Linked DNA regions of Homo sapiens. The protein of the gene in region 1 purifies or fractionates together with the protein of each later gene. This does not show direct contact. Each region holds a gene or a part of one and is shown in the gene's direction. Other genes may lie near its edges.

Evidence for each region.
Region 2: the proteins of ECSIT (region 1) and DECR1 purify together in Homo sapiens (affinity purification with mass spectrometry; 2 studies listed by BioGRID and IntAct, with this or other methods). This does not show direct contact.
Region 3: the proteins of ECSIT (region 1) and ABCC10 purify together in Homo sapiens (affinity purification with mass spectrometry; 3 studies listed by BioGRID and IntAct, with this or other methods). This does not show direct contact.

What each region holds. Positions count from the first base shown.
Region 1 is NC_000019.10:11,519,111-11,522,760, reverse strand, and holds part of ECSIT (evolutionarily conserved signaling intermediate in Toll pathway, mitochondrial isoform 1 precursor), read left to right. Parts: intron 1-210; exon of another isoform or gene 211-830; intron 831-3,567; 5' UTR 3,568-3,590; coding exon 3,591-3,650.
Region 2 is NC_000008.11:90,021,974-90,025,623, forward strand, and holds part of DECR1 (2,4-dienoyl-CoA reductase [(3E)-enoyl-CoA-producing], mitochondrial isoform 1 precursor), read left to right. Parts: intron 1-3,650. UniProt on the Homo sapiens protein: Auxiliary enzyme of beta-oxidation. It participates in the metabolism of unsaturated fatty enoyl-CoA esters having double bonds in both even- and odd-numbered positions in mitochondria.
Region 3 is NC_000006.12:43,444,423-43,447,765, forward strand, and holds part of ABCC10 (ATP-binding cassette sub-family C member 10), read left to right. Parts: intron 1-365; coding exon 366-516; intron 517-702; coding exon 703-892; intron 893-1,176; coding exon 1,177-1,520; intron 1,521-1,854; coding exon 1,855-2,024; intron 2,025-2,128; coding exon of another isoform or gene 2,129-2,391; exon of another isoform or gene 2,392-2,478; intron 2,479-2,825; coding exon 2,826-2,986; intron 2,987-3,083; coding exon of another isoform or gene 3,084-3,092; exon of another isoform or gene 3,093-3,176; intron 3,177-3,261; coding exon 3,262-3,343. UniProt on the Homo sapiens protein: ATP-dependent transporter of the ATP-binding cassette (ABC) family that actively extrudes physiological compounds, and xenobiotics from cells.

The sequences.
Region 1 (3,650 bases):
TTAAAGTTGTAACTTTTATTTAATTAAATTTAATTAATTAATTTTTTTGAGACAGAGTCTCACTCGGTCACCCAGGCTGGAGTGCAGTGGCGCGATCTCAGCTTACTGTAACATTGCCTCCCAGGTGCAAGCAATTCTCCCACCTCAGCCTCCTGAGTAGCTGGGATTACAGGCATGTACCACCATGACTGGCTAATTTTTTTTTTTTTTACCGGGGCGTTCCTGAGTTTACGTGGGGCACACCTGGGTGAGGGCCCTACCCCTAGAAGAAGGTGTTGGGCCTTTTGGTGGTGAAGCGTGGCTTGTGCTGATGGCGCAGGACCTGGTGGGGCAGCGGGAACTTGATCTTGGAGTCTTGGAACTGCTTGACGGCCAGCCGGTGGGACTTGCTGGCTGCTATCTCCTCCATCTTCATGATCTGGATGGAATGGGTCCAGGTGGGGTACCGGGCGCCCATGTCTCGGTAGCACTGGGTGACAGCGCCCGTGGTGGTCAGGTCCCAATATTCCTGGTACATGTTGTGGGTGCTGCTCTGGGAGTTTGTAGCGCAGCCAGATGCCGAAGTTCTTCACCCGCAGGCGGTACTTCTCGAATGCCTGCCCACAGTTGACAGTCTCCCCGAAGACTTCTTCATCTTCTTTAGCTGAGATACAAAGTACCAGAAGTGGGACTTGGCAACGACATGATCAGGTGCAAAGATTCGCATGTGGTAGAGGGGTGGTGTGTGGCATTTGGGAGTGAGCAGGCAGCAACCCACCACCTTGTACTCTTGTAGTGTGCCCGAGGCCTTCATGGCATCCTCTCCATGCTTGCCGCCACCGGCAAAAGGAGCCTGGCTAATTTTTGTATTTTTAGTAGAGATGGGGTTTTGCCACGTTGGTTGGTTGGTCTTGAACTCTTGACCTCAAGTGATTATCCTGCCTGGCCTCCCAAAGTGCTGGGATTACAGGCGTGAGCCACCACACCTGGTCTTATTCTTATTTTTCAGACAGAGTCTTCCTCTTTCGCCCAGGCTGGAGTGCAGTGGCACGATCTTGGCTCACTGCAGCTTCTGCCTCCTGGGTTCAAGTGATTCTCCTGCCTCCGCCTCCTGAGTAGCTGGGGACTGCAGGAGTGTGCCCCCAGCCTGGCTAATTTTTGTTTTTTTGTTTTTTTAGTAGAGATAGGGTCTCTCCCATGTTGGCCAGGCTGCTCTCGAACTCCTGGCCTCAGGTGATCTGCCTGCTTCGACCTCCCGAAGTGCTGTGATTACAGGCGTTAGCCACCACGTACAGCCATAACTTTTACTGAAAAAAAAAAAAAAAATCCACGTATAAATGGACTTATGCTGTTCAAGCCTTTGTTGATGAAGGGTCAACTGTACGTTGCCGATGGGAATGTGAAATGGTGCAGTCATCCCCAAAAACAGTCTGGCAGTTCCTAAAAATGTTAAACATGTAGTTACCATATGTCTCAGCAGTTTGACTCCTAAGTATATACCCAAGAGAAGTATAAACATGTGTTCACATAAAACTTCTACACGAATGTTCATGGCAGTAGTAGTTATAACAGTCAAAAACATTTGGCAAACAACCCCAAATGTCCATCAATTGATGAATGCATAAATAAAATATGGTTATAGCCATACAAAACCTGGTTATATTCCATTCCAAAAACAGTGGAATTGGCCGGGCATGATTGTAATCCTAGCAATTTGGGAGGCCAAGGTGGGTGGATCACTTGATGTCAGGAGTTCAAGACCAGCCTGGCCAACATGGTGAAACCCTATCTCTACTAAAAATACAAAAATTAGCTGGGTATGGTGGCGGGTGCCTGTAATCCCAGCTACTTGGGAGGCTGAGGCAGGAGAATCACTTGAACCCGGGAGGCAGAGGTTGCAGTGAGCCAAGATCATGCCATTGCAATCCAGCCTGGGCAACAAGAATGAAACTCCATCTCAAAAAAAAAAAAGCCCGGGTGCGGTGGCTCACGACTATAATCCCAGCACTTCGGGAGGCTGAGGCGGACGGATCACAAGGTAAGGAGTTTGAGACCAGCTTGGCAACATGGCGAAACCCCATCTCTACAAAAAAATCTATAAATTAGCTGGATGCAGTGGCACACACCTATAGTCCCAGCTACTCAGGAGGCTGAGGCAGGAGAATCGTGAGCCCGGAAAGCAGAGGTTGCAGTGAGCTGAGATTGTGCCACTGCACTCCAGCCTGGGAAACAAAGCAAGATCCTGTCTAAAAATAAAAATAATAAAAATTAAAAAAAAATCTATGCATGAACCTTGAAAACACGTCAGTGGGCCAGGTGCGGTGGCTCACGCCTGTAATCCCAGCACTTGGGGAGGCTGAGGCTGGCGGATCACTTGAGGTCAGGAGTTCGAGACCAGCCTGGCCAACGTGATAAAACCCCATCTCTACTAAAAATACAAAAATTAGCCGGGCGTGGTGGCATGTACCTGTAATCCCAGCTACTCGGGATGCTGAGGCATGGGAATCGCTTGAATCCGGGAGGCGAAGGTTGCAGTGAGCCGAGATGGCACTATTGCACTTCAGCCTGGGTGACAGAGCGAGACTGCATCTCAGAAAAAAAGAAAAAAGAAAAAAAACATGTCAAGTGAAGGAAACCAATCATAAAGGAGCACTTGTGATTCCAGATTCCATTTGTATGAAATGGCCGGCATAGGGAGATCTATAGAGACAGTGGATGAGTGGTTTCTTGGGGTTGGGAGTGAAGGGAAATTGAGTGCTAATGGGTACAGGGTTTCTTTCTTTTTTTTTTTTCTTCTTTTTTTTTTTTTCTGGAGATGGAGTTTTGCTGTTGTTCCCCAGGCTGAGGTGTAATGGCATCATCTTGGCTCACTGCAACCTCTGCCTCCTGGGTTCAAGCAATTCTCCTACGTCAGCCTTCCCAGTAGCTGGAATTACAGGCGTGCGCCACCATGCTCGGCTAATTTTTTGTATTTTTAGTAGCGATGGGGTTTCTCCATGTTGGTCAGGCTGGTCTCGAACTCCCAACTTCGAGTGATCCGCCCGCCTCAGCCTCCCAGAATGTTGTGATTACAGGCGTGAGCCACCGCGCCTGGCCAGGTACAGGGATTCTTGTTGGAGTGACACAGATTTTGTAAAATTAGATTGTAGTGGCTAGGAGTGCTGGCTCACACCCATGATCCCAGCACTTTTGGAGACAGAGATGGGAGGATCACTTGAAGCCAACAGTTCGAGACCAGCCTGGGCAACACAGCAAGACCCTGGGTCTCTGCAAACTATTTTCAAATTAGCTGGGCATGGTGGCACGCGTCTGTAGTCCCAGCTTCTCGACGCTCTGGGGCTGGAGGATCACTTGGGCCCAGAAGTTGGAGGCTGCATTGAGCTATGATCACGCCCCTGGGGCAGCAGGATTAGGGTGCTGTCCCAAGAACAAAGTCTTTGAGTCATCAGCCTGTTTCTTGGGTAAGGTAAACATTGGGGCTGGTGAGTGAGCCACATAATCTGGAGTGTGCCCTCGACCCTGCGGGGCCCTTGCGTCTGTTAGCATCTGTAAGGTGCCAGGCTAATGCTGAATCTTCTTTTGGGCCAGGTGATTGTCTGACAAGCAGAGGCATGAGCTGGGTCCAGGCCACCCTACTGGCCCGAGGCCTCTGTAGGGCCTGGGGAGGCACC
Region 2 (3,650 bases), on another chromosome or scaffold:
GTACATTTATTCACCTGACAGACACTTACTAATGACTTTTGGGTAGCAGGCCCTATACTCATGCTCAAAGCACAGAGGTGGACAAGACCCTGTCCCTGAATAATTTGGGGAACTTGAAGGGTGCGGGTATTTTCTCAGAGAAGGTGGAGAGTATTTTAAACAAGGAAAATGAGGAAGCGTTCTCATGCTCCTCAGAGGATGTCCTTTGAGGGTTGAGGGGAGGAAAGAGGGCATGGAGCTGGCTAGGTTCCTCCCTCTGTTCAGAAACCTTTGCCTTATAAGGTTCAATTTCTTCTTTTGTGCAGCGCAGGTGATCCTAGAACCAGCTTGAGATACGCTGTAGGAACAGAGAGATGCTACAGAGGCACTAGCTCTGTGTGTGTGTGTGTCTGCTCACATACATACACTAATAGCTTCCATCCTTTCTATGCACTCATTGAAATTGAAATTCCTGGTTACTCATTTCCATGATGGCAGAATGGATGTGATTTATAATTGGATTTTGGATAAGTGTTTTATTTGATGTTTTTTTTTTCAGTGAGGGGCAGGAAGATGGATAAGAGTGGGAAGGGGGGACAGGGAAGAGTGTGACTCCTCTCTCTTCCCTTCTCTGTCCGAGGAACCTTGATCTCTGTATCTCTCCTGTGTCTCTGCCTCTGTCTGATTTTCTCTCGCCCTACCCCTTGCTGATATCTCCATTTCATTCTCTACTGCTCTGCCTCTGTCAGCTCCTCATTTTTGGTTCTCTGTTTCTCTCTTCATCTGTCTCTTTCGTTTCTTTGTCCTTCTTTGCCTCTTTGTCTCTTATTTCTTCCCTCGCTCATCTCTGTGACCCTCAATTTCTGTCTGACTCTCCCTTCTTCCCTCATTATTGTCTTTCATTTTAACATAGACTCTGATCTATTTTTGTTCATCACATTGGATTAAAATTCTATGAGCTTCATTAAAAATATATTAGATAAAATATCTTTTTAAAAGATGGAAGCCAGTTTTTATTCTTCCAAGATTCCTGTCAGTTATTGATGCTATAAGCTGACAGAGTTTGGAGAACTTGGACCACTCAGCTGAGGGGAGTACGCGGTAAAGGATTTGTTCTGGTACTGGATCGACAGTCAAGGAACTGAAGCGTGACATTTTTAACAATATCATGTCTTCCAGTCTCTCAATGTGGTATCTCTCACCATTTATTTAGGTCTTCTTTAATTCCTATCAGCAGTGTTTTGCATGGGCATTGTACATGTTTTGTTAACTTTCTCCCAAAGTATTTAAATTTTTGGTGCTATTGCAAATGGCACTGTTTTCTAAATGTTATTTTCTAGGTGTTTTCTTGTAGTATTTAGAAATACAATGGATTAGTTTTGTGTATTGATGTATTCCCTAGGAGCTTGCTAAACTCACTTAATGGTTATTACAGTTTTTTTTTGTTTAGATTCCTTTGGATTTTCTGCATTGGTAATACTGTTGGTGAAAAAAAGACAGTTTTTATATTTTCCTTCCCAACTGATAAGCCTTTTATTTTCTTTCTTGCCTTATTTTATTGGATGGGACCTTCACTAAAATATTGAATAGGTAAAAACTTAGATTCTGCTGGTTCCTAGTATTAAGAACAAATCAAATACATTTCCTCCTGATGCCAGGAGGAAAGCAATTAGATTTTCATTATTAATTATGATTTACCTGTAAATTTTCATAAATATCCTTCATCAGCTTTGGGAAGTTATCTTCTATATCTAGTTTGCTGATAGCTTTTTTTTATTATTACACTTTAAGTTCTAGGGTACATGTGCACAACGTGCAGGTTCGTTACATATGTATACATGTGCCATGTTGGTGTGCTGCACTCATTAACTCATCATTTACATTAGGTATATCTCCTAATGCTATCCCTCCTCTCTCCCCCAACCCCATGACAGGCCCCAGTATGTGGTGTTCCCCACCCTGTGTCCAAGTGTTCTTATTGTTCACTTCCCACCTATGAGTGAGAACATGTGGTGTTTGGTTTTCTGTCTTTGCAATAGTTTGCTCAGAATGATGGTTTCCAGCTCCATCCATATCCCTACAAAGGACATGAACTCGTCCTTTTTTATGGCTGCATAGTATTCCATGGTGTATATGTGCCACATTTTCTTAATCCAGTCTATCATTGATGGACATTTGGGTTGGTTCCAAGTCTTTGCTATTGTGAATAGTGCCACAATAAGCATACATGTGCATATGTCTTTATAGCAGCATGATTTATAATCCTTTGGGTATATACCCAGTAATGGGATGGCTGGGTCAAATGGTAATTCTAGTTCTAGATCCTTGAGGAATAGCCACACTGTCTTCCACAATGGTTGAACTAGTTTACAGTCCCACCAACAGTGTAAAAGTGTTCCTATTTTTCCACATCCTCTCCAGCACCTGTTGTTTCCTGACTTTTTAATGATCGCCATTCTAACTGGTGTGAGATGGTATCTCATCGTGGTTTTGATTTGCATTTCTCTGATGGCCAGTGATGATGAGCATTTTTTCATGTGTCTGTTGGCTGCATAAATGTCTTCTTTTGAGAAGTGTCTGTTCAAATCCTTCGCCTACTTTTTGTTGGGGTTGTTTGATTTTTTTCTTGTAAATTTGTTTAAGTTCTTTGTAGATTCTGGATATTAGTCCTTTGTCAGATGGGTAGATTGCATAAATTTTCTCCCATTCTGTAGGTTGCCTGTTCACTCTGATGGTAGTTTCTTTTGCTGTGCAGAAGCTCTTTAGTTTAATTAGATCCCGTTTGTCTATTTTGGCTTTTGTGGCCATTGCTTTTGGTGTTTTAGACATGAAGCCCTTGCCCATGCCTATGTCCTGAATGGTAATGCCTAGGTTTTCTTCTAGGGTTTTTATGGTTTTAGGTCTGACATTTAAGTCTTTAATCCATCATGAATAAATTTTTGTATAAGGAGTAAAAGGAAGGGATCCAGTTTCAGCTTTCTACATATGGCTAGCCAGTTTTCCCAGCACCATTTATTAAATAGGAAATCCTTTCCCCATTGCTTGTTTTTGTCAGGTTTGTCAAAGATCAGATGGTTATAGATGTGTGGTATTACTTCTGAGGGCTCTGTTCTGTTCCATTGATCTATATCTCTGTTTTGGTACCAGTACCATGCTGTTTTGGTTCCTGTAGCCTTGTAGTATAGTTTGAAGTGAGGTAGTATGATGCCTCCAGCTTTGTTCTTTTGGCTTAGGATTGTCTTGGCAATGTGGGCTCTTTTTTGGTTCCATATGAACTTTAAAGTAGTTTTTTCCAATTCTGTGAAGAAAGTCATTGGTAGCTTGATGGGGATGGCATTGAATCTATAAATTACCTTGGGCAGTATGGCCATTTTCATGATATTGATTCTTCCTATCCATGAGCATGGAATGTTCTTCCATTTGTTTGTGTCCTCTTTTATTTCATTGAGCAGTGGTTTGTAGTTCTCCTTGAAGAGGTCCTTCACATCCCTTGTAAGTTGGATTCCTACATATTTTATTTTCTTTGAAGCAATTGTGAATGGGAGTTCACTCATGATTTGGCTTTCTGTTTGTCTGTTATTGCTGTATAGGAATGATGTGATTTTTGCACATTGATTTTGTATCCTGAGACTTTGCTGAATTTGCTTATCAGCTTAAGGAGATTTTGGGCT
Region 3 (3,343 bases), on another chromosome or scaffold:
AATCATTACAAAGCCCAGAGACTCACCAAGCATGGGTCACAGCTGGGACAAAAGCCATACTCCTAATTCTGAGAGATGCCCAGGGGCCAGAGGCATGTGCTCTATAGCTGGCTTCTGTTCTGCCCCCTAGGTTAGCTCCCATTCTGCAAGTCTGAGATCCTGTTCTCCCCAGAGCTGAAGGGTGACGGGCCTATGAGAGAAGCCCACACTAGGGAGGATATGGGGTAGTGGCAGGGTGGGGAGGCCAGGCCAGGCGGATGGAGATGGGCAGGAACCAGAGGCAAGGGCGGAGAAAGGGGGCATTGGAATAGAATGAACAAGGGAGAGGAGCCTCTTACAGCTTTTTCCTTCCTGTCCCCACCCAGCCACGCGGAACGCTGCTGACTGGTGGCTCTCCCACTGGATCTCTCAGCTGAAGGCTGAGAATAGCTCCCAGGAGGCGCAACCCTCCACCAGCCCAGCTTCTATGGGGCTCTTCTCTCCGCAGCTGCTCCTCTTTTCCCCTGGAAACCTCTAGTGAGTGGCTGGGGCTGGGGGTAGGCCTGGTGCTCTCAGAGTGGTCGCCAGGCAGGGAGTGAGGGTTGTGGCCGGTATTCCAGATGCTGTGACTTCTGGAGGGTGGGAGAGATGGCATGGGGGAGGAGAAAGGACCCCCGAGTGGCCCTAGTTTTGGTTACCGACAGCCCCCTCCTCACCACCCAGCATCCCAGTGTTCCCACTGCCCAAAGCTGCCCCCAATGGCTCCTCAGACATCCGTTTCTACCTCACCGTGTATGCGACCATTGCTGGTGTAAATTCCCTCTGCACCCTTCTCCGGGCAGTGCTCTTTGCAGCAGGCACCCTTCAAGCAGCTGCCACTCTGCATCGCCGCCTGCTGCATCGAGTCCTTATGGTGAGGGGCTGGGACCTCGGGGGTAGGGGAGTGCAGTCCTAGCCCCTGTGGAGTGTCCTCCCAATACTCGGGCTCCACTGGGGATGGGAGAGTCTTTCCTGCCCTGGGATATTCTTCCTCAACCTCTGCCAATCTCTCTTCTCTGCCCCCAAATTCTGGGGATATTTTAGTCCTTCCCTATTCTCTATCTTGGGCCTTCCCCTCCACCCCACCTCCCCCAGTGCTGCCTGCCAACCCCTCTTCTGCCAGACTCTGCCCTGGCCCAATCAGCGTCCTTCTCCCAGGCACCAGTGACTTTCTTCAATGCCACACCCACGGGCCGGATCCTAAACCGCTTCTCCTCTGATGTGGCCTGTGCGGATGACAGCCTGCCCTTCATCCTCAACATCCTCCTGGCCAACGCGGCAGGCCTGCTGGGGCTCCTGGCCGTGCTGGGCTCTGGCCTGCCCTGGCTGCTGCTCCTGCTGCCGCCTTTGAGCATCATGTACTATCACGTGCAGCGCCACTACAGGGCCTCCTCACGGGAGCTGCGGCGCCTGGGCAGCCTCACCCTGTCTCCACTGTATAGCCATCTGGCCGATACCTTGGCTGGCCTCTCTGTGCTCCGGGCCACAGGGGCCACCTACAGGTGTGTGAACCAGAGCCCAGGGGGATGAGGTGTTGGGGGGAGAGGAAAAGAGAGACCCCCAAGAAGAGGAATATGCAGGGTATGGTTGGTTCAGCCCTCCTGGGGACAAGGGATGGGGAAGGAGGAAAGCAACAGAAGAAGGAGATAGGGAGGCAGAGTGGACCCCCACTTTGAAAGAGCACACTGGCATCTGCAGCCCTGAGGGAGGCCTGTGGGTATACAGACCAGCTCCCAAGAAGGAGCTGCTCAATAAGGGCCTTCCCTGTTGAGGCCCTGAGGCTGGGTGGCTCAGGGCAACAGTGGAGTGGCTTCACATCCCTCTGGCCTTCCCTAGGTTTGAGGAGGAGAACCTGCGACTCCTTGAGCTAAACCAGAGGTGCCAGTTTGCCACCAGTGCCACAATGCAGTGGCTGGACATTCGGCTACAGCTCATGGGGGCGGCAGTGGTCAGCGCTATCGCAGGCATCGCTCTGGTGCAGCACCAGCAGGGCCTCGCTAACCCAGGTGCCACCCAGGACCCCTCACCCCTACCTCATCCACAAGTTAGTCCACCGCTCTCCCAGATCTCTCCCTGCACCATCCCCCCAACATTTTCACCTCCCACCCAGGGTTCCCTGTGAGGATGTATCATGATTATCATCATCACCCCCGTTTGGAGTTGAGGAGACAATCCCCAGGAGGGACTTGCCCAGGTGGTGGTGGCTTGGGGACTAGAATGAGTCTTCTGAGCTGCTGGTCTCAGTCCCTTCCCTGCTTCCACCCCGTCCCCACCACACTGCCCCAGCCCGCTTCAGTCTCCCACATGCCGTCCCTCCCAGCTTCTCCAGGCCCACCCCCTGCCCTGCATCTGGCCTCCTGTGCTCCTGGCTAGGTCCTATCACCCTCCTGCTTCTCTGTTGCTTTTTTGTTTTGTTTTTTTTTTTGAGATGGAGTCTCGCTCTGTTGCCCAGGCTGGAGTGCAGTGGCACGATCTCGGCTCACTGCAACCTCTGCCTCCTGGGTTCAAGCAATTCTCCTGTCTCAGCCTCCCAAGTAGCTGGGATTACAGGCGCCTGCCACCACGCCCAGCTAATTTTTGTATTTTTAGTAGAGACAGGGTTTCACCATGTTGGCCAGGCTGGTCTCAAACTCCTGACCTCGTGATCCACCTGCCTTGGCCTCCCAAAGTGCTGGAATTACAGGCGTGAGCCACCGCGCCCAGCCTCTGTTGCTTCCTTTAAATGCCAGCAGTCCACAGCCTGGGGAGTCTCCCACAAACGTCCCGGTGTCCAAGCTCTCCCAGCAGCTGGTACTTCTCTCCCCCAGGGCTGGTGGGCTTGTCGCTGTCTTATGCCCTGTCCCTGACGGGCCTGCTCTCGGGCCTGGTGAGCAGCTTCACACAGACAGAGGCCATGCTGGTGAGCGTCGAGCGGCTGGAAGAGTACACCTGTGACCTGCCCCAGGAACCCCAGGGCCAGCCACTGCAGGTGGGCCTGTACCCCCACCCCAGGCCAAAGCTCTGGAACCCTGAAGGCCCCAGTCTCCCTCACAATTCCTTTCTTTTTGCCCACCCATCTTTCTCAGCTCCCATAACCTCTCTTCATGATGACCACAATTCTTCACCATGTCCCTTCTTCCCCATCTCTCATTCTCTCATTCCTCTCACACTGTCCATTTCTCATTATTCTCCCCTCCTCACCATCGCTCCTCATCTCCCCTATCTCCCTTTCCCCGTCTGTCTCCCACCCATGGACCCCACCAGCTGGGCACCGGCTGGCTGACCCAGGGGGGCGTGGAGTTCCAGGACGTGGTGTTGGCGTACCGGCCAGGGCTGCCGAATGCCC